4 separate regions of the Homo sapiens genome follow, and regions 1, 2 and 4 are each linked to region 3. Evidence: fine-mapped expression QTL. A gene starts in region 3. Each other region holds a variant in brackets. All regions are shown on one strand. Distances are between the middles of the regions.

The links. PIP is the estimated chance that this variant, and not a neighbour inherited with it, causes the effect.
Region 1: its variant is the best candidate, but not a certain one, in a credible set for the expression of ACSM1 in tibial artery (GTEx, PIP 0.58).
Region 2: its variant is the best candidate, but not a certain one, in a credible set for the expression of ACSM1 in whole blood (INTERVAL, PIP 0.64).
Region 4: its variant is the best candidate, but not a certain one, in a credible set for the expression of ACSM1 in whole blood (INTERVAL, PIP 0.65).

Annotation. Positions count from the first base shown.
Region 1 is chr16:20,573,682-20,578,835 of GRCh38, reverse strand. ACSM2B (acyl-CoA synthetase medium chain family member 2B) reads left to right here and starts at 2,469. Exons shown (of 14, transcript NM_001105069.2): 1 at 2,469-2,629. The variant G/C (reference allele first, on the strand shown) is at 3,052.
Region 2 is chr16:20,636,042-20,641,195 of GRCh38, reverse strand. It overlaps ACSM1 (acyl-CoA synthetase medium chain family member 1), which reads left to right. Exons shown (of 14, transcript NM_001318890.3): 8 at 612-735; 9 at 3,745-3,825; 10 at 4,356-4,457. Among named protein-coding and RNA genes, the nearest start is that of ACSM1, 59 kb to the left of the region's middle. The variant G/A (reference allele first, on the strand shown) is at 2,634.
Region 3 is chr16:20,695,588-20,700,741 of GRCh38, reverse strand. ACSM1 (acyl-CoA synthetase medium chain family member 1) reads left to right here and starts at 3,062. Exons shown (of 14, transcript NM_001318890.3): 1 at 3,062-3,106. It also overlaps a transcript of ACSM3 not described here.
Region 4 is chr16:20,647,302-20,652,455 of GRCh38, reverse strand. All of the region lies in intron 7 of ACSM1 (acyl-CoA synthetase medium chain family member 1), which reads left to right. Among named protein-coding and RNA genes, the nearest start is that of ACSM1, 48 kb to the left of the region's middle. RefSeq lists enhancers at 1,005-1,608, 4,247-4,811. The variant A/T (reference allele first, on the strand shown) is at 2,821.

The DNA.
Region 1 (5,154 bases), 120 kb after region 3:
AAAAATGGACTACAACAGGAAATTGTTGCCAGGGAGTAGGGTATTGCTATAAAGATACCTGAAAATATGACAGCAGCTTTGGAACTGGGCAATGGAAAAGGTTGGAAGAGTTTGGATGGCTCAGAAGAAGACAAAGAGTTGAGGGAAAGTTTGAAACTTCTTAGAGATTGGTTAAATGGTTGTGACCAAAATGCTGTCAACGTAAAATAGTCAAAAGAGTCAGCATCTAGTTAAAAGAGCTCATTCAAGCACAAAGTATGAGTGCGGCCATCCAGGGAGCACAGCTATTCCAAAGAATGGTGAGCAGTGTTGTGCTCCTGGTGTAGGGGAAAATGAGGATTGCTTATACCAGCAAAATGAAGTTGCTGAACAAAATTACAACATTTTCCATAAAAAAGGTTAACATACAGATATAAGATTTCATTGGCTACTTTTGATTACACGCTAAAGGGATAGTTTTACATTCTATTAAAAGGAGACAGTCACAAGGGTCTCTATCTTCACTTTGTTTAGCGCAGTTTTGAATAAAGAAGAGTCTGGTTAATGTATAACATCTCAACACAAAGGTCAGAAAGCAACGGTCATGCACCAGAATCAGGGGAAGTTGTGTTACCTCAGTCAGCTTTCAGGCCTTAAGTTTTCCCTTTTGCATGATAAATTTGGAAGGTCCTAAATTTAAATTTTTTACAATGCTGATAGAAATATAGACAGTACAGGCCATGCCAAAAAATCTCAGATAGAAATGAGAAACTCATTGGAAGCTGGAGCAAAATTCACCCATGTTACTCTGTAGCAAAGAACTTGGGTGCACTGTGTCCATGCCCTAAGGCTTTGTGGAAGGCTGAACTAAGAGTGATGACCTACGGTGTCAGATGCAAGAGATATCTAAGCAGCAAAGTGCTCAAGAAGTGATGTGGTTACTTTTAACAGCTTATGTTAAATTGTGACAGCAAAGGAATGACCTAAAGCCTGTGTTTATAATTAAAGGGGAAGAAGAGCATTAAAATTTGGATAATTATCAGCCTGCACATAGTGGTAGAGAAGAAAAGAGAATTTTCAGGAGAGGAGTCCAAGAAAGTGTCAGAACAACTCTGCTAAAGCATGACCAAAAGGGGGCCTGGTGCTAATAGGATAATAGGAAGAAGGTTCCAAAGGCATTTCAGAAATCTTTGGGGCTGCTCCTCCCATCACAGGCCCAGAAGACTAACAAAGACAGAATGGTATTAATTCTGCAGGCACCCAGAATGTAGGGGCCATAGATGCTTGGTGGTAAGATCCTCTACAAAGAATTCCCTCTAGGGAAATGCCTCATGAAGCCATGGGAGTGGGGCCACCCCCAAGACACAGAACTGTAGGATCACCAATTTGCAACTCTAGCCTGAGAGAGCTGAAGCATGGGCTGATACCAGCTATAAGACAATGTTGGCCATGCATGGTGGCTCATGCCTGTAATCTTTGGGAGGCCATGATGGGAGGATCACTTAAGTTCAGGAGTTCAAGACCAGCCTGGAGAACATAGTGAGACCACGTCTCTATAAAACGTTAAAAAATTAGCTGGGCATAATGGCATGTGCCTGTAATCCCAGCTGCTCAGGAGGCTGAGGTGGGATGGTTGCTTGAGCACGATAGATTGAGGTTGCAATAAGCTGTGATCAGACTACTGCACTCCAGCCTGGGCAACAAAGTGAGACACTATTTCAAAATAAAATAAATATGAAGAGATATAAAGAGTTTTTTTCCCTGTTGAGTTTTGGGCTTACTTGGACAGTGTTGGGTTGGGTTGGAACAGGGAAGAGAATGGGTCAGACTCTGAGTGTAGCCTGCAGGTGGATCTGATGGCTTTTTCACATCCATGTGAGAAAGAAAAGAGTCAGGGCAGTCTCTAAGATTTGATGTTGGAAGAACTAGAGGAATAGGGGTGACATTTGCTGAGATGGATAAAACCATACCTGGAATGAGAGTGGCCAGGGAAGGATGTGATCAACCTCTTAGCTTTGGACAAAGTATGTTTGAGATGCCTGTTAGATATCCAGGTGGAGAAGTCAGGAAGATGAGGATGCAGGAGAGAAAACCAGGTTGGATACACACGTGTGGGGGCCATTGGCAAGCCACATGGTATCCAAGCTATGACATTTGATGAGATAATGTACAGAGTGAACGTGGATAAAGATGAGGAGGAATCAGCAAAAGAGAAGGAAAGCAAGAGGAAAACCAGGCAAAAGTGGTATGCTGGAACCAAGCAAAACAAAGAATTAAAGGAGTGTTCATCAAGCCTATGTGAGCTCCATTTCTCTCTCTTGGGTTGAAGCAATAATTTTCTGTCAGTCCTGGGCATAAACCTGCTTCATGCCCCTTGGATTGAAAGTGCAAGTCCAGTTGACCTCAAATGCTCTAATGTTGTAATGTCCATAAACTTGGCTAGGAGGACTGCTGTTACCCTTTGTAAGACTCCAAAGTTATCCACTGTCAATGATTAGCTGAGCTCTCTTTCCGACAGTGCAGGGATTCTGAAGCTGTCTGCTTGAGTTACTGTGCTCTCTTCCAAGGCTGTAGGAGTTCTGGAGCTGCTGGCTGGAGAGGAGGGTGGACGAAGCTCTCTCCAGAAAGACATCCTGAGAGGACTTGGCAGGTGAGCACTGTTTCAAGGAATGGGCTGATGGGGTCATAATCCATGATAACCTCACCAATCTTTTAGAGTCACAGCTGGTGAGAAGAGCAAAAATCCTCACAGAAAAGCAGAAATTCCTAGGGACCATGAAAGACAGTACCTGCCAAGTCTTAGGAGGAAACACTGGGCAGAGGAAAAGGCACGTTTATGGCAGCAACAGGGAGAGACGAGGGCAGCTGGAAAAAGGTGGTAACAGGGGGCTGGTAGTTGGGTGGTGGTCAGAGAAGGATGAATCCCAGAGGAGGTGAGACCAGAAGAATGAAGAAGAGCTTATTATGGAAAAAGAGAGGGACCAGCAGGTACAAAGGCAATGTGTAGTTCTGCTCAGGAGCTGGTACAGTAATCTTCAATTCTTATTCCATAGAAAAAAAGGAGACAGAAAT[G/C]TCAGACACTGTGATGGTTAATACTGAGTGTCAATTGATTGAATTGAAGGATACAAAGTGTTGATCCTGGGTGTGTCTGTGAGGGTGTTGTCAAAAGAGATTAACATTTGAGTCGGTGGGCTGGGAGAGGCAGACCCACCCTTAATCTGGGTAGGCACCACCTAATCCAGCATGACTAGAATATAAGGAGGCAGAAAAATATGAAAAGAGAGACTGGCCTAGCTTCCCAGCCTAGATCTTTCTTCCGTACTGGATGCTTCCTGCCCTTGAACATCAGACTCCAGGTTCTTCAGTTTTGGAACTCAAACTGGCTCTCCTTGCACCTCAGCCTGCAGATGGCCTATTGTGGGACCTTGTGATCATGTGAGTTAATACTGAATAAACTGTATATATATATACAGTTGTGTATATATATATACACACATACATATGTTAATACTTAGTAAACTCATATATATACTTATATATATGAGTTTATATGTATTACTTATACATATGAGTTTATAAAATATATATATTCCATTAGTTCTGTTTCTCTAGAGAACCCTGACTAATACAGATTTTGGTACCAGAAGTGGTTCTAGAGGAAAAGAATATTAAGGATGGAGTTCTTTTGTTGGTTTTGGGGTTTCTGGAGTTGGTGCCTTAATATGATTAGACCCCAAAATACTAAGGACTCTAATTCTAATAGTATGGAGAAGACTGATAGCCCTTGGTGTGAACTGTTTAAAGAGTTATACAAAATAAATGCATTTGACACTCCTGATTCATTGCTCATGAGAGGCAAGGAGTTTAGTGACCCTATACATCATACCTTTGACCATATGTGGAGAACTAAGGAACATAATGAAGCTGGTTGGTTGCTCCTAAGTTCAGTGGATAAAGTGATGAAAGAAAATGATGAACTCGGGGATTCTATCTCCCAGCTTCAGAAGCAGATACTGAGCCTCAAATCTGCCAAGATTGCCCTGAGTGAGAGTCTAATCTCCTGTAGAGAAAGAACTGAAATTGTGGAAAAATAGACATAAGCTCTTATCATGTTAGTGGCTGACCTGCAATGAAAGGTGCATGCACAGCCTCACCATGCACAGCCTCGCCAAGTATCTACTGTTAAAGTGAGGGCATTGATTGTTTTGCAGGAAGTCAGGGACCCTGAATGGAGGGATCGGCCAGAGCTGAGGCAGAAGAACATAAATTGTGAAGATTTCATGGATATTTATCACTTCCCAAAATTAATACTTTTATAATTTCTTATGCCTGTCTTTACTGCAATCTCTGAACATAAATTGTGAAGATTTCATGGACATTTATCACGTTCCCAATTAACACTCTTATAGTTTCTTATGCCTATCTTTACTTTAATCTCTTAATCCTGTTATCTTCATAAGCTCAGAATGTAATTCACCTCAGGACTACTATTGCACAAATGGATTGTAAAACATGTGTGTTTGAACAATATGAAATCAGTATACCCGGAAAAAGAACAGAATATCAGTGATTTTCAGGGAACAATGGAAGATAACTATAAGGTCTGACTGCCTGCGGGGTCGGGCAGAATAGAGCCATATTTTTCTTCTTGCAGAAAGCCTATAGAAGGATGTGCAAGTAGGAGAAATATTGCTGAATTCTTTTCCCAGCATGGAAGAACCCTGGGGAAGGAATGCATTCCTGGGGGTAGGTCTATAGATGGCCGCTCTGGGAGTGTTTGTCTTATGCGGTTGAGATAAGGATTGAAATACGCCCTGGTGTCCTGCAGTACCCTCAGGCTTACTAGGATTGGGAAATTCCAGCCGGGTAAATTCTAGTCAGAGTGGTTCTCTGTTCTCAAACCCTGTTTCCTGTGAAGATGTTTATCAAGACAATGTGTGCACAGCAGGACATAGACCCTCATCAGTAATTCTAATTTTGCCTTTGCCTTGTGATCTTTACTGCCCTTTGAAGCATGTGATCCTTGTGACCTACTCCCTGTTCGTACACCCTCTCCTCTTTTAAAATCCCTAATAAAAACTTGCTGGTTTTGCTGCTCGGGGTCACCATCATAGTCCTACCACTATGTGATGACAGCCCCAGAGGCCCAGCTGTAAAATTTCTGTCTTTGTACTC
Region 2 (5,154 bases), 60 kb after region 3:
TTTTCCTGTTCACATCAGCCTTTTCTGTTTTCTCTGAAATTCCTTCTGTCAGGGCTGTACCCTGTAATGCTTCTCCCTCTCTCTTTCCCTACTCAGCTTAATCTGCTCTGATGTCCTGAGCAATTCACTTCCAATCCCTAACATGCATTCCCCATTCAGAAATACAAAAGCCCTTTAGTTAGCGTAGTGTAAGCTCCATAAAAGAATGTATAGTTCTATTATCACCCTAGCATGTCCTTAAGATCTCATCCTTTACCCCATTATGATTATAAAAATGTCCTTCTTAGCTATACAGAATGCTTCCCCAAGAGGAGTTCTGATAAACACACAGTTCTCCCTCTTGTTACACTGATATCCAAATTTAATCCAAACATTCCCAATTGAACACAATAGCCTCACCACCACCCATCCACCGTCTGCCAGAATAGTTCGCAGGGACTGGCAGGAAGTGAGTGACATCCACTTGGCCATGGCCAACTGTAAAATGACCAAAAAGTAAATAAGAAAGTGAGGAACTAGAAGGATGAATGATCTGGGTGACAGACTTAAGAGCTCTGAATGCACAGAGCCAGGGTGGCTCACCAATGCCTGGCACCTTGTCTTCCTCTAAGCATCAGGTTCCCTGCCCTGGAGCACTGCTATACTGGCGGGGAGGTCGTGTTGCCCAAGGATCAGGAGGAGTGGAAAAGACGGACGGGCCTTCTGCTCTACGAGAACTATGGGCAGTCGGAAACGGTAGGTGGTGCAAACCAGAAAGTGTCTGAGACAGGTCTCAATTAATTTAAAAGATTATTTTGCTAAGGTTAATGACACGCATCTGGGAAACAGGTTTGTGCCTTTCCCCAAAGATGATTTTGAGGGCTTCAATATTTAAAGGAGAAAAGGCAGATATTGGGGAAAAAGGAAGAAATTTTCTAAAGGTGGGGTAGTTACGAGGCAAATTGTTGCCTTCTTGTGAGTCTTTGATCAGCTGTTTACATGTGAGAGAAGGGTAGAGGAAGAGTCACTTGTGCATTCATCTAGATCAGTGAATCTGCATTTTTACATAAGATAAACGTAAGTCAGAGAAAGCAACTAGGTACATATTTGTCTCAGGTGAGCAGAGAGATGATTTTTGAGTTCTGTTCTTTGTCCTATACGTGTGAAGATGAGCTATAAATGTCAGGGTGAAATTTAGCAGAACTGTTTGACAGTAACGATCTTGGGGCCCACAAGGAATTTCTTAGTGGGAAAATTGTGGCGGAGGCATGTAGTTTTGTTTTGTTTTTTATCTTTTTAGCTCTTGTTTAGGAATAAAATGAGAGGCAGGTTTGACTGATGCAGTTCCCAACTTGAGTTTTCCCTTTGGCTTAGTGATTTTGGGGTTTGTTTTCCTTTCATAGTGGAAAGGTCCCTTCTGGATAGTCATGATGTGCTCAGCGATTGAGCCCAGCAGATGTGCTGAATTATGCCACATGTGCGGGACACAGCCCCATCGCATGCACAGCATTGTTTGATGCCAACCAGAGGCTCTAGAGTTCTAGGCTAATTTGTCCCAAATCTATCTGCAGAAAGAAAATGTACAACTCGTCATCTTACCAAGGGACTAATGTGCTTAAAACTCTTGGACAAAACCTTAAAAAGGGGTCTAAGGGCGTTTTCACACTGTCCCTGTTATCATCAGCTCAGAGGATCCCCAGAGGGTGGGTGGGATAGGAGACTCTCTCCAGCAACATGGAGACCACCTCCTCCAGGAAGTCCTGTCAACTCCACTAACCCTCCCTAGGGCTGCAGAGGCAGGAGGAAGCTGGCTCAAAAAGTGCATTGCTTGGGGTTTAGGAGGACAACTCGCAGGTTTGACTGTGGGATACTAGCAGGGTGGGTGAGGAGCAGGGACTTTCTGTATATGCCAAACACATGTACACACAAACAGTGTCATTCCAGAGTATCACTGAGCTGCCAGGTGAGTGGGGCATTTGGAGTACTATGCATGTCTGGAAGTTCAAGGACCTCATCAATTACAGTGTGGGTGAGCATCTCTTCCAACATATTTGCAATCCATTTCCAATGCTGGACAGAGCCACTTTCTCCCTCTGTCTCCATTATCCCTCTAGCACATAAAGGATGACTGCTATCCCAGGCCCTGTGCAAAATTATTACTTTAGTGCCAACTCACATACTCAGCTGACATTATTTTGTAAAAAATATATAGCAATTCAGTTAATTTGTCTGCTTCCAGACCTGAAAAATGCTGACACTTCGGGCCTATGTTTGAATGGCTCACAGGTCATATTTGGACAAGGAGGAGGGTGGGCCAGGAAGACACACTCCACCCACGACTCCAATATTTGCAGCACTAGGTGGTGCTTAATTTCTGAAAACACTTTCACATCTGTTCACTCATGTGTGCAACGTTTTTCACATGCCTACAGTGTGAGCAGTGATGTGGCAGTGGGCAAAGATCTTCCTATCCCAGGAGCACAGACCTGGGTCCAAGTCTCAGCTCTGCCAATTACAGCTTGAAGACCATAAGGATATTATGTATGCTTTCTCACCTCAGCTCCCCCACCTTTAAATGGAAATTATAATGCCAATCTTAACAGATTGTGATAAGGTAAATAAAAAGAAGTATATAATGCTCTGGCTGGTGTCCC[G/A]CCTGTTGTATATGCTCACCTTGCAGCTGCTGTGGTCCTTGCTATTTTTGGTGGCTATTGTTCCAGATTTTGGAAGCTCAGGGATAAATAGGGCAGTCTCTATTCTTGGGATGCTCATTATCTACTGAAGGAAACAGACAAACAAAAATAATTATAATGCCCTGTGGGCTGCAATGGAAGTATAGGAGAAATGCTGCAGAAAGAGAATCTTTCCCTTGACTTCTCTTGTAGCTTGAGTAATAGCCAGTAGTCATCATTCATTGAACACGTGGTGTGTGCCTTGTATTATGCAGAATTTTCCATATGCTTACAAGCACTCTGGGAGGTAAGTGTTATCATTATTACCCTTTGATGGAGGAGATCAAGAGGGATTCATTGGCATGCATTTAGTGTGTGGTGGAGTCAAGGGTCAAACCCTCATTGGTCTGAATGTAAAGCACGCAGCTACAGAAATAAATATATTTGTGAGAACAATAAAGGAGGAATCAAGTTCATCAGGAAGAAAGATGAAGATAGGGCAGTGCTAACAGAGAGAACAGCACAAGCAATCCAGACAACCTCCACACACACTGGGGCATCCTGCAGGGTGAGATTCACAGGCCTCTTCCTACGGATCACTGATGACAAAGGCAACATTCTGCCACCCAACACAGGGGGAAAAGTTGGCATCAGGATCAGTCAAGAAGTTGTGGCAGAATCCCTATCACTGCTCAACAGCCCCAAGTAAATGTTTGTTAGATAGACTAGTGGTCTTCCCCTAGCAAACTGACACATGCCTGTTCAATGGTGGGCATGCCACACCCCACATTATATGCCCACAGCCAGGGGAATACCCTGTTTCTTCTTTCTTTGTTTCCCCATTGGATTCTGTAGACTCCACTTAGTACAGAGCCAGACCACACTGGCTGCAGAAAATGACTGTGGAATAGAGTTGGGTCAACACCTTGAGCCTAGACTAAGGCCTTCCAGCTTCCCTACGAGGGCTCTTTGGGCAGCATCCATTGAGAGGAATACTACATCTCTGAGCAGAGGATGCTGTGTATGATTCTGACTGCTTTGTGATCAGCCTGGCCTCTCTGATCAACCCAAATCTTCTTTCTTTTGTGAACAGGGACTAATTTGTGCCACCTACTGGGGAATGAAGATCAAGCCGGGTTTCATGGGGAAGGCCACTCCACCCTACGACGTCCAGGTCTGGTCCTAAGGGCATTGGCAGGGAGCAGTTAGGGCTCAGCGGGGGTTGGACAATTTGACACCAGGTGACAACACCAGCCGCACTTCCCTGCTCCAGTCATCCTTCCTCCTCTCTTCTCATTTATCCCTTCAGTTTCATATGGAGGCCTCAGTTGAAAACTGCATTATTGTGAGCATGAACACCGCTGACCCTGGCAGCCAGGGCATCACACACAGTAGGTAGGAAAGAATACCTAGAGGCTGCACTGGGAGCCCTCTCTAGCAAGTGGTGCTTTTCATTTTTTTTGATCACTGTTTTCCAACTTGAAGACACATTGGTGACATCTACTAACTCATGAAACATAGACCCTTGGCTTGAGTTTCACATTTGCGTATTTTAAAGGCTTTTGACAGTTTTATTCCATTTTCTGATGTTTCCTCTGTTATTTCATCCACACTGGTGTCCCATGCATAAACCAGACAGTGCTTGGGTGGGGCAGAAGGGCTGCGGCCTCCTGCAGTGTATGATTCACAGGCCTCTTGCTACAGGTCATTGATGACAAGGGCAGCATCCTGCCACCTAACACAGAAGGAAACATTGGCATCAGAATCAAACCTGTCAGGCCTGTGAGCCTCTTCATGTGCTATGAGGTAATGACCCCCCATCTGCCCCCATCCTGGCCCCAAGGATCCCAACAGGGAGCTCTGCATCCTGAGGCTTCTTCAAGTCCTCTTTTATTTGCTCTAACTCAATGAAATGAATGAGTTTTCATTCAACTCGAAGCTCACCGTGCATTCTCCCATCCTTTCCTGTCTGAACCCACCTGGAACTTTTGGGATGTTGGGGTAGAATGAAGACTGGCTTCAGAACCATCAGACTTGGGTTTCAATGATCTACTGTAGTCAAGAATATAGGCTTTGACTGGATTCAAATAATACCATCTCACTTACCAACAACAGAGTGTAAACAAATCACTTATCCTCGCTGAGCCTCCAGGGAACTCTATTATCCCATTTTACAGAGAGAAAAGCTGCAGATTAAAAGCCCTGCACATCTTCTGCACATCAAATAAATGGTAGGTTTAGGATTAAAAAAAAGTAAAAACCAGAGATTATAGAAAACTGAGATGGATTACAAGGAAACCTGCTGAAACTCCTGATCAAATAAGCAATGGCCCTCCCAGGATAGGAATGGCCACAAAGAGGAAAATCTTAGCTCCCAATATTGGCCATGGAAGGATGACCAGACCCTGAAATTGATTTCAGACTTCATCTCCTTTCTCTAAAGACACTTTCATTGGCGGCTGTCCTGGTGTCACTGCCATCCTCACACTGTGGTTTCAAGGGA
Region 3 (5,154 bases):
ATCATGTCTCTTTCCTCCTAAAATCTTCACGAGACTTCCATGCACCCACCCATTGCACTTAGAATAGAATCCAAACTCCTTATTATGTCCATAAAGATCCTTAATGGCATGTCTCCTGCTTGTGTCTCTGACCTCACACTTTATCATACTTCTCACTCAGTAATCTGCCATCCCAGTCCCCCACCTATGCCTTGAAAATGTCAGCCTCAGGCTTTGCACTTGCTGTGGCTTTTGCCTGGAGTTCTTTTTCCCTAGCTGGCTGCTTCTCCTCCTTCAGGTCTCAAAATGTCACCTCTTAAGGGAGAACATCCTTAGCCACCTCCCCACACTCTCTCCATCATATTGCCCTGTTCTGTTTTCTTTTTGGCAGTATCACCATTTGAAATCCTCTTGCTTATTTAATTGACTTTTTGCTTATTGGCTTTTGCCTTTCTATCATAGGCATGTAAACCTCTTGAGAGCACCAACCTTGTCTTACATGTTTAAAGCACGCCTAAATGTTCCTTAAATATCCACTGAATGAATGAATGTATCATAGGTTTTCTATAATAAGCAGACGATAGCAAGTTCAAAAAGCTGAGGTTGGTAGGATATTTAGCTACATGAAGTCACTCAGAGAACAAGGCTGATAGAGACTTTGCCATTTTACGATGTCACTATCTCCATATATGGTTTCCAGGAGCATTGAATCAGGGGAAGAGAGTACAGAAAACTCATACCTGCTCTTAAATAAATGCCCTAGGCCAGAAGTGACTTGTAACACTTCCACATGGAGTTTATTGTTCAGAACTAGAGTTTAATGGCCTCACTTTAGCTTTAAGAGAGGTTGGGAAATGAAAGAGGAGCACACATAGAATGTTTGGAGAGTTTTCCTTTGTCCGCTGTATACCTCTTGTTAAAGATGAGAAAATTGAGGAAAAGAGGGATAAGAAATCTGCTCAATGTCACAGAGCTGGTAACTGGTAAAAGCTAGACTCAAGCCCAGGCTGCCTGGTGCCAGAGCCTGTCTTCTTGTCCATGCCTTCATGTTGCAGTTCCACAGGGGAGAACTACTCAGATGCAGAGAGTGTGTCAAGGGCTTTTCCCCCGTCTCCATTCTTTTCCGAAAAGTGGCTGCTCCTTCTCTTTAGTAACAGAGGTTTTTTGGTTAGTTGTTTTGTTTGTTCGTTTCTTTGTTTTTTGGTACTTTGATGCTTTGGGTGTTTAAGGTTTAGCTTACCATGGCCAGTCAACTAGCCCTGCCTTCTCACCTCTCCAGTGACTGGCCACAGAAAGCTAAATATTAAAAACCCAAACTATCCTAGCTTGCCACACGGTCCTGTCAGGAATGTCCTGGGTGTCTCCAGAAATCTTTAGCCATGACTTTGATCAGAAATAATTTCTTCCCAGCTTCAATGAAAATACTGGAGATCCCTCATTCTCTAACAATGCCCCAAAAATGGCTCCAGTAGAAAAGTCATAGTACAAGCCGCTACCTATGACTACCTTGGTTTATCCAATGCAATATCACTATCAACCCTCCATCTAAATGCCTGGTCCAGGTGCTTTACAGGCTTGGTGTCACATAATCCTTTCAATGATCCCATGCAACAAATCTTATTAACAAATCCTGCTTCATTTTACAAATGTCAAGACCAAGCTTTGAAAGGAAAATGGTTCACCCAAGAGCTTTCTTGTGAGTGCCTGAGGTTGGACTTAATTAAGCTCAAGACTTTGGGATTCCAAAGACCCTGCATTTTACCAGGATACCAAATTGTTCCTCTGAGAATCCCAAGTGAATAAAAAGAGCCAACATCGACTATGCCCAGCACCGTGTGCTACATGCTTTTTATAAATTATTTCATCTAGTTCTAACAAACAAATGAAGAAGCAAAGAAAACACCCTGGGAGGTAGGTATTGTTGTTATCATTCCTATTTTACAAATAAGGTAGGTGTTGGGTGCTGTGGCTCATGCCTGTAATCCCAGCACTTTAGGAGGCTGAGGCGGGCAGATCACCTGAGGTCAAGAGCTCAAGACCACCCTGGCCAACATGATGAAACCCTGTCTCTATTAAAAATACAAAAATTAACTGGGTGTGGTGGCGGGCACCTATAATCCCAGCTACTTGGGAGGCTGAGGCAAGAGACTCAATTAAACCTGGGAGGCGGAGGTTGCAGTGAGCCAAGACCATGCCATTGCATTCCAGCCTGGGTGACAGCATGAGATTCTGTCTCAAAAGCAACCGAAAACCAATTAAGGGAGGTGAGGCCCAGAGCAAGAAGGTCCACAAAGATGACATGGAGGTTAAGTGGCAGACCTAAGGCTCAAACTCAGACCTTTCTGCCTCCAGACCTCCAGAGCCCAGGCTCTTATCCATTAGGCTACACTGACTCTCAGCTGTCATTTAAGGGAGACTATGGTGATGTAGGGCTGGGAAGGGGGAGCAGGTTAGCCACAGAGAACTAGTGAAAATGCACCATTGGATCTAGTTCATTCACACCCCTAGCCATGCCACCGGAATTGGAGGTGACTTCGTATACGTGGTTTGTTTTTCTTTTTTTTTTTTTTTTTGAGACAGAGTCTCTGTCTCCCAGGCTGGAGTGCAGTGGCATGATCTCGGCTCACTGCAAGCTCCGCCTCCCGTGTTCACGCCATTCTCCTGCCTCAGCCTCCCGAGTAGCTGGGACTACAGGCGCCCACCACCACACCCGGCTAATTTTTTGTATTTTTAGTAGAGACGGGGTTTCACCGTGTTAGCCAGGATGGTCTCCATCTCCTGACCTCGTGATCCGCCCGCCTCGGCCTCCCAATGTGCTGGGATTACAGGCGCGAGCCACTGCGCCCGGCCCACATGGTTTGTTTTCTAAGTGATTATCTCTCCGTGGAGGCCTGTAATTGTTTCTGTCCTATTTTACCTGAGCATCTCCTCCCCCTACTGAATTACCCAATTCCTAACAAGTTCTCTGTTCAAGGTCCCCCTTCGCTGTGGCCAGAAGCCAAGTTCTGCTGGGTGCACAATCCTGCGGATCACCTGATCAGAGAGAACTGAACCTACAAAAGAGAGCTCAACCTCCTTTTCCATACCTACCAGGGACCTAGTTCAGCTACGTCCTAAACAGTACCAGGTAAGACAGAGGTGAAGGTCAGCTTCTATCTGTGTGTGTGTGTGTGTGTGTGTGTGTGTGTGTGTGTGTGTGTGTGTGTAATCCAATTTTAAGTTCTGGCAATGCTACTTTTAAGTTGAGTGACCTTGGGCAAGTCACTTAACTTCTTGGCACTTCATTTTAGAGGCAAAATGACAATGGTGATATTGGGTGAGAGGAATAAATAGGAACGTACATGTAATATGTTTAGCACAGTGGCTGGCATGTAAATGGGGACTGGTTTAGTGTCAGGCAGCTCTGAATGTGGTGAGCCGTGGGAGACAGGCACAAAGTCAGAGATGAATGTTTGAAGGAAATCTTTTCTATCTATGCAGAAGTTGGCTCACTTTCTATAAAGTGAATGCCTTCTAAAAAAAATTATCCAAGCATAGTAATACATGCCTGTGGTCCCAGGTACTTGAAAGGCTGAGGCAGGAGGATGACTGTAGCCCAGGAGATTGAGGCTGCAGTGAGCTATGATCACACCACTGCACTCCAGTCCAGGTGACAGTTTCAAAAAAAATGGTTAACATCTAATGGGGAGGGGGTTGGCTTCAGAATTTGCTGGGAGTTAAAAGGTACCTCAACATTTATTGAGTCCTTACCGTGCACTTCATTCAGTGCCAGCAAGTAAATTATCACACTAATCCTTATGGGGAGCTGGGAAGAAGGTATTACTACTGTGCGCTTAAGTTCAGAGACATGAACAGCACCAAAGACCCAGCTGCTAGACAACAGAGACAAACATCTAGCCCTGGCTCTGTAACTCTGGGATACCCTATAACACAGTAAGTATGTTGCTTCATTAAATAGCTTTATCAGTCCCAAGTCCTGTGAAGTCAAAGCTTAGTTGCAGGAGCTGTTCAAGGCACTATGTATCTGGGAATACAGTGGGGAGCCCAGCTGCCTCTCAAAGCTACCATGTCAAATTGCTTTCAGAATGCACTTTAAGCAGTTCAGAAAATTGTTCTTTAAAATGATTTCATAGGATGTGCTTTAATGATATGCTCTAACAGGGTAGGAACTCTTTCAGTTTAATTAATCTCCAATAGTATCTAAAACTGTACATGGTACATCTATAGTAAATACTTGAGAAAGAAAAAATACATTTTTCTATAACTCAGATAATTTGTGGGCACACTGGCTTTTCTCTTTCTGACTTTCATCACTCAGTTTTCTGAATTATGACAAAGAAGGGAAGAATCTAACTTTTTGTTGAGCACTTACTATGTCCAGCACGGTGAGAAATAGACAAACTAAGCTTTGTGAAGTCAAATCTGAAGACAGATGTGGATGGAAATAGATATCGAAACAGAGACAGAGACGGAGATAGAGATAGAGACAGAGATAGTGATAGAGATAGAGACATGCATCACTTAACAACCAAGATACGTCTGAGAAATGCATTGTTAGGTGATTTTGTTATTATGGGAACTCATAGAGTGTACTTACACAAACCCACAAAGCATAGTCTTCTACACATATAGGCGATATGCTATAGCCCATTGCTTCTAGGCTACAAACCTATGTAGCTTGTTGCTGTATTAAATACTGTAGGCAGTCATGACACGATGGTAAGTACTTGTGTATTGAAACATAGAAAAGGTACAGTAGAAATATGTCATTATAATTGTATGGGCCACTCTGTATATGTGATCCATCACTGACAATGACATCATATTGTGGCACATGACTACAGTGTACATGTGTTATTGTTATAGACATTAATATTAATGTATAGATATACACAGATAGTGATATAGGTATAAATGTAAATATTGGTATATAGATACAGAAATAGATTTAGAAATGAAGCTTAACATACATACAGAGATAGAGATAGACGCAGACATAGACATATAGATATCTGATTTTCAGTCCTCAACACTTGGAGATCAGGTTCTTATATATCTAGATAGATAGATAGATAGATAGATGATAGATAGATAGAAAATAGGTAATAGGTAGATAGATAGACGATAGATACATAATAGATAGGTAATAGATAGATAAATAGATGATAGATAGAT
Region 4 (5,154 bases), 48 kb after region 3:
AGACTTTTTAAATTTTTTTGTCAAAAATACCTCTTTATTTTTATAACTTTCTTTATATTGCTCTTATTTCCTGGTTTCCCTTGTTTCATATATAACCCTTAAATAAGGTTTTAATTAGACAAAGATATTTTACCTTAATAAGAATGTTAAAAAATTTCTTAAATTGGAAATTACCCAGAAACTTAATATCAAATAATAACCTTAAATCCTAAATTATGACAAGTGTGTTTACAAGCATTTATTCCATTACATGTACCTGATTAATTTAGTAGTTTACCTAGGTTATTTGCAAAAAATTGATAGCCAATATTTTAAGTTATTTTTCTATTAACGATTTTTATAGCTGTGAATTTGAGGTGTTTACTTAAGTAATAAAACTTATGGTTAGTTTTAAGGATATTTATACCAATAATTCAGTATTTAGCTGTTTTCATTTAAGCCAACAATATTTCATAAGCATATACAATCAAAGATCACTCTGTCTTGGGCTGGATTTTATAGTTTATAACACTTATGGCAAATTTTATAGTATTCTGTGGGAATAAACATGAAACCATTTGATCAATAGATGCAAAAAAAATTCTAACAATTCTAAAGACATTGCTGATATTATTTTACCAATAATTTTAAAGCTGGCTAGATACTTACTAAAATAAAATCTTATTTAGTAAAGATTTTACTTAAGTCACATGAACTTGAAAAAGCATTTGACTAGTTTTTTTTGTTTAGTATCTGATTTAAGCACTTTTTAAAGCCAATTAATTAGAGCTCTTCATATGTGTGTTTGTGTGTATATATATAGTATTTTATTTTATTTTATTTATTTGTTTTTTTGAGACAGTCTTGCTCAGTCAGGCAGGCTAGAGTGGCACAATCTCAGCTCACTGCAACCTCCGTCTCCCGGGCTTAAGCAGTTCTCCTGCCTCAGCCTCTGGAGTAGCTGGGATTGCAGGCATGTGCCACCATGCCCAGCTAATTTTTGTACTTTTAGTAGAGATGGGGATTCACTGTGTTGACCAAGCTGGTCTTGAAGTCCTGACCTCAGGTAATGTGCCCACCTCGGCCTCCTGAAGTGCTGGGATTGCAGGCATGAGCCACTGGGCCCAGCCTCTTCATATATTTTTAGTCATGAAAATATTGTATACACACACATAAATATATACATGTATTAGGCATGCTGGTAGAAGCACATCACATAGACTCATAAAGATCTTTTTGTTTTTGCCATTTAAAAAAATCTTACCCTAGGCAGTTGTCAGCTAAATCGTCTTAAATTTGCATATTAAAGGCAACTCAGGTGAAATCAGATAGCAAAATTTACATCATAAGGTATGAAGAGAAAGTCTGGTATGCTAGAGGGAAATTAATTCAACTGCCAATTGAACATAAAATTATAGAAGGCTTTAAATAGGCACACACATGCACACACACACAAAAAGTTCCCATAGCTATTACTTCAGTACTTTAGCCATGGGATAAATACAACTTTGCCAGCTTGCAAAAAGCGGTTAGATCCAAATGGTGGTTTTTATCTCAGTAGAAAAGTAACAGCAGCTTTAAAGCAGGCAGACAAGAAAATAGAAGCTATGTACTCTATAGTCTGCAGGTCGACCTTAGGAATCTTCTTCCTTAATGTAAATGTGCACAAAGACCATATTACTTCCATTTTATATAAACTCTGGCAAGTGGAGGTGCCATAAAACCTACAGAGTGCCCAAAAGAGGGTCATTCTCATTCTCCTTGTTTACTCCTTATTCTTAGATTTTGTTTCCTGCTTTTTTTTTTTTTCTTAAGAGGAGGAACTGAGCTGTAGCCTAGGGCTTTTGTGTGGTGGATCAGTGCATGCTGCTTGTGGGCAGGACTCCACCGTGTATCACTACAGAGTCCTTCCCACCTCCTAGGTGTCTGGGTTTCTCTCTCCAGAGGTCTATGACCTCTGAGAGGGCTCAAAATGCTGGGTAATCAGCCTTTATATGCACTTCCTGGATGAGCAATTTTAAATTAATTTTTGTTGGGGATTTCCCTGTAGGGCCGCTGCACGTTGTGGGGGGTCAAGCTCCCAGACACTCCCACGAGTCCCCTGATCACCCAGGGGCACCTTTTTGACTAGGAGAAGCAAATGACCTTTCTCTTTGGAGCAGAAAAACTCAGTCTCTCATTTATCTGTGAAAACGACACTTCAGTTCCTCATGCAAATGCACTGAGATGAACCAAATCAAGATAAATTTTAGCAGAAAATGCAGGAGAGAATTCCATTTAGAATGCATCTCGGAACTAGAATAAGGATCCTGAAACAACAACTACCTAGGAGAAAACCAACTCAGAATAAATCAAGGACTGTCAACCAAAGGGAAGTCTGGGGTTCAGGAGGACTTACCAGTTCCACCAGAGGAGAAGCTCAAAAGAATAGGCTTCAGTGGGCCCTGCTGGTACCTTAGCTCCAAGTTTGGGCAACTCCTTCAAGGTCCTGAGTCTTCTCTGAGGCCCCACGTGTTTGGGCACCAAACTATTGTTGACAAAGAGTGAATCTCTGTAAAATATGTTTAAAGATTTATTCTGAGCTAAATATGAGCGACCATGGCCTGTGACACAGCCCTCAGGAGGTCCTGAGAACATACGCCCAAGGTGGTCAGGATGCAGCTTGGTTTTGTATATTTGAGGGAGGCATGAGACATCAATCAAATACATTTAAGAAATACATTGGTTTGGTTCAGAAAGGCAGGACAACTCAAAGTGGGGGCTTCCGGGCTATAGGTAAATTTAAACATTTTCTCATTGACAATTGGTTAAGTTTATCTGAAGACCTGGGATCAAAGGAAA[A/T]GTTCAGGTTAAGATAAAGGTTTGTGGAGACCAAGTTTTATTGTGCAGAGGAATCTGTCAGATACCAGACATCAGAGAGAGAGAGAGAGAACAGGTTGTAAAATGCTTCTTACTGGATTTAAAAGAGTGCCTGGCTCTTAGTTTATTATCTCCTGGATCTGGAAAGGAAAGAAGGAAAACAAATGGGAAAGGGGATTCTCTATAGAATGTGGACTTTTCCCACAAGGGACTTTGCAGGGCAGTTTCAAGATATGGCAGAGAAATATGTTCAGGGGTAAAATATTTTGATTTTCTTCCTTGTCTCATAATGGTATGCCAGAGTCAGATTGGAAAGTAAGTCATGATATAAAGGGTTAAATAAAACCCATCTGATGAGAATTTATGGTTTGTAGGGCATGACTCCCTAGACCCTTTAGGTAGGAATTTGGGCAAGATTAAAATAAAATAAAATAAAATAAAACAGAGCTTTGTCCTCACTACCAACATTCTGTGAGGGCCATAGGCTCTTGGACCCCTAAAGGTTCACTATAAAATCACTGACATGAGCCAGATTGATTAACAGGAGAGAAAGATTGCAAATTTATTTAACATGTATACATGGGAGCCTTCAGAATGAAACCCCAACTTCTCGAGGATTTACAGAAATTTTCATACTACAAACCAATACTGAGATAAGTCTCAATCAATTTAGAGGTTATTTTGCCAAGGTTAAAGACATGCCTGTGACACAGCCTCAGCAGATCTTGAGAACATGTGCCCAAGGTGATTGGTCTACAGCTTGGTTTTATATTTTTAGGGAAACATAAGACATCAATTAATACACGTAAGGTGTATATTGGTTTGGTCCAGAAAGGTGGAACAACTCAAAGCAGAGGCTTCCAGGTCATAGAAGGATTTTCTGATTGGCAGTTGGTTGAGTTTATCTAAAGACCTGGAATCAATAAAAGAGAGGGTTAGGATAAAGGATTGTAGAAATAAAAGTTTTTATTATGCAGATGAAGCTTCCAGGTGCAGGCTTCAGAGATAATAAATTATCTTAAGGTCTCTGTTTTAATGTTAATGCTGGTTAGTTTTGCCTGAATTCCAAAGGAAGGAGGGTATAATGAGGTACATCCAACCACCCATTTCCATCATGGCCTGACCTCTTGTCTTAGGATAACTTTGGAATGCAATTGACTGAGAGGAGGGGTCCATTCTGTTGGCTGGGGCTGCTTAAAATTTCATTTTTGGTTTACATTACCATCCTGAGGCTACAGTAAAGAATGCAGACTGAGAGCATGGCCAGAAACAGGTTATGTTGGTAAATCAGGTTGAGTGGCAAGAAAGGTTAAGAGAGAGAGAAAAGAAGAATATTAGCTAGCAAAGCTGGCCTTGTTAGGTACATGAAGACTCCTTCAGAGAGAATAGATGGTAAATGTTTCTTTTCAGACTTTTAAAGTTGTCAGATTCTCAGTCTCTCCTGGATATGAGAAAGGCATAGAAATGTTGGGGTTATCAGGCCCAACACCAGGTGGTGGGGGTAATGAAGTCCGGCAGAGTCAAAGGATTGAGAAAAAGACAATTTGAGAAGTAAAGTGGGAGCAGGGGGCCATCGCGACTGTGGAGGCTGCAAAGTTCCTGAGCTCTGGGAGCCCATGCTATTTATTGGTAATCCAACAAAGGAACAGGTGGTGAGAATGAGGAGGTCAAAAGGGCAGGTGCATGATGAACAGCTGTGATAGTTTAGCATTTATAAGGAACGTGTTCTGCTACTTGTGATAATGGGAATACAATGGATCTAGGAGACTAGGAAGGCTAGAAGCAAGGAGCCAGAAAGTCTAGACACATTCCAGAGGACATTATGTCAGACATGCAAGCCCTGCCTCAGTTTTCTTCCCAATATTCAGCTTTTTCCCAACATGCCCCCTTTCTCTTTTTTGTAAAAGAGAAATGTCATTATTACTATCATTATTACTAGATATCGTAATTAGTAGCATAAAAGTTGGCCTCTTTTAATTGAGAAGGCAATTGCAGGCTGTGAAGGCTTGAATTGCCAGTTGGTCATCCAGCTTCATTTTTCTTAGCCCTTATTCAAACTGGAGTCACTCTGGTTTGAATGCTTCCCACATATCTCCCCTTTCCCTTTTACAAGAGGACCCTTAATCCTAGGGGTTACAGAAGGATGAAGGTCTATCTTCTGTAACTTCATGCTGAATAGAGGTGATGATATTCCTGCCTAACTATTAGGGTCTCTTGTATTCAGGTAGAAAAGAGCTGAGTCAGGACGCATTGGTCCATTAAGCATGCATGACTCTAGTCGGTCTTCATTCCTTCTTTGCATTCAGGTTCAGCTGG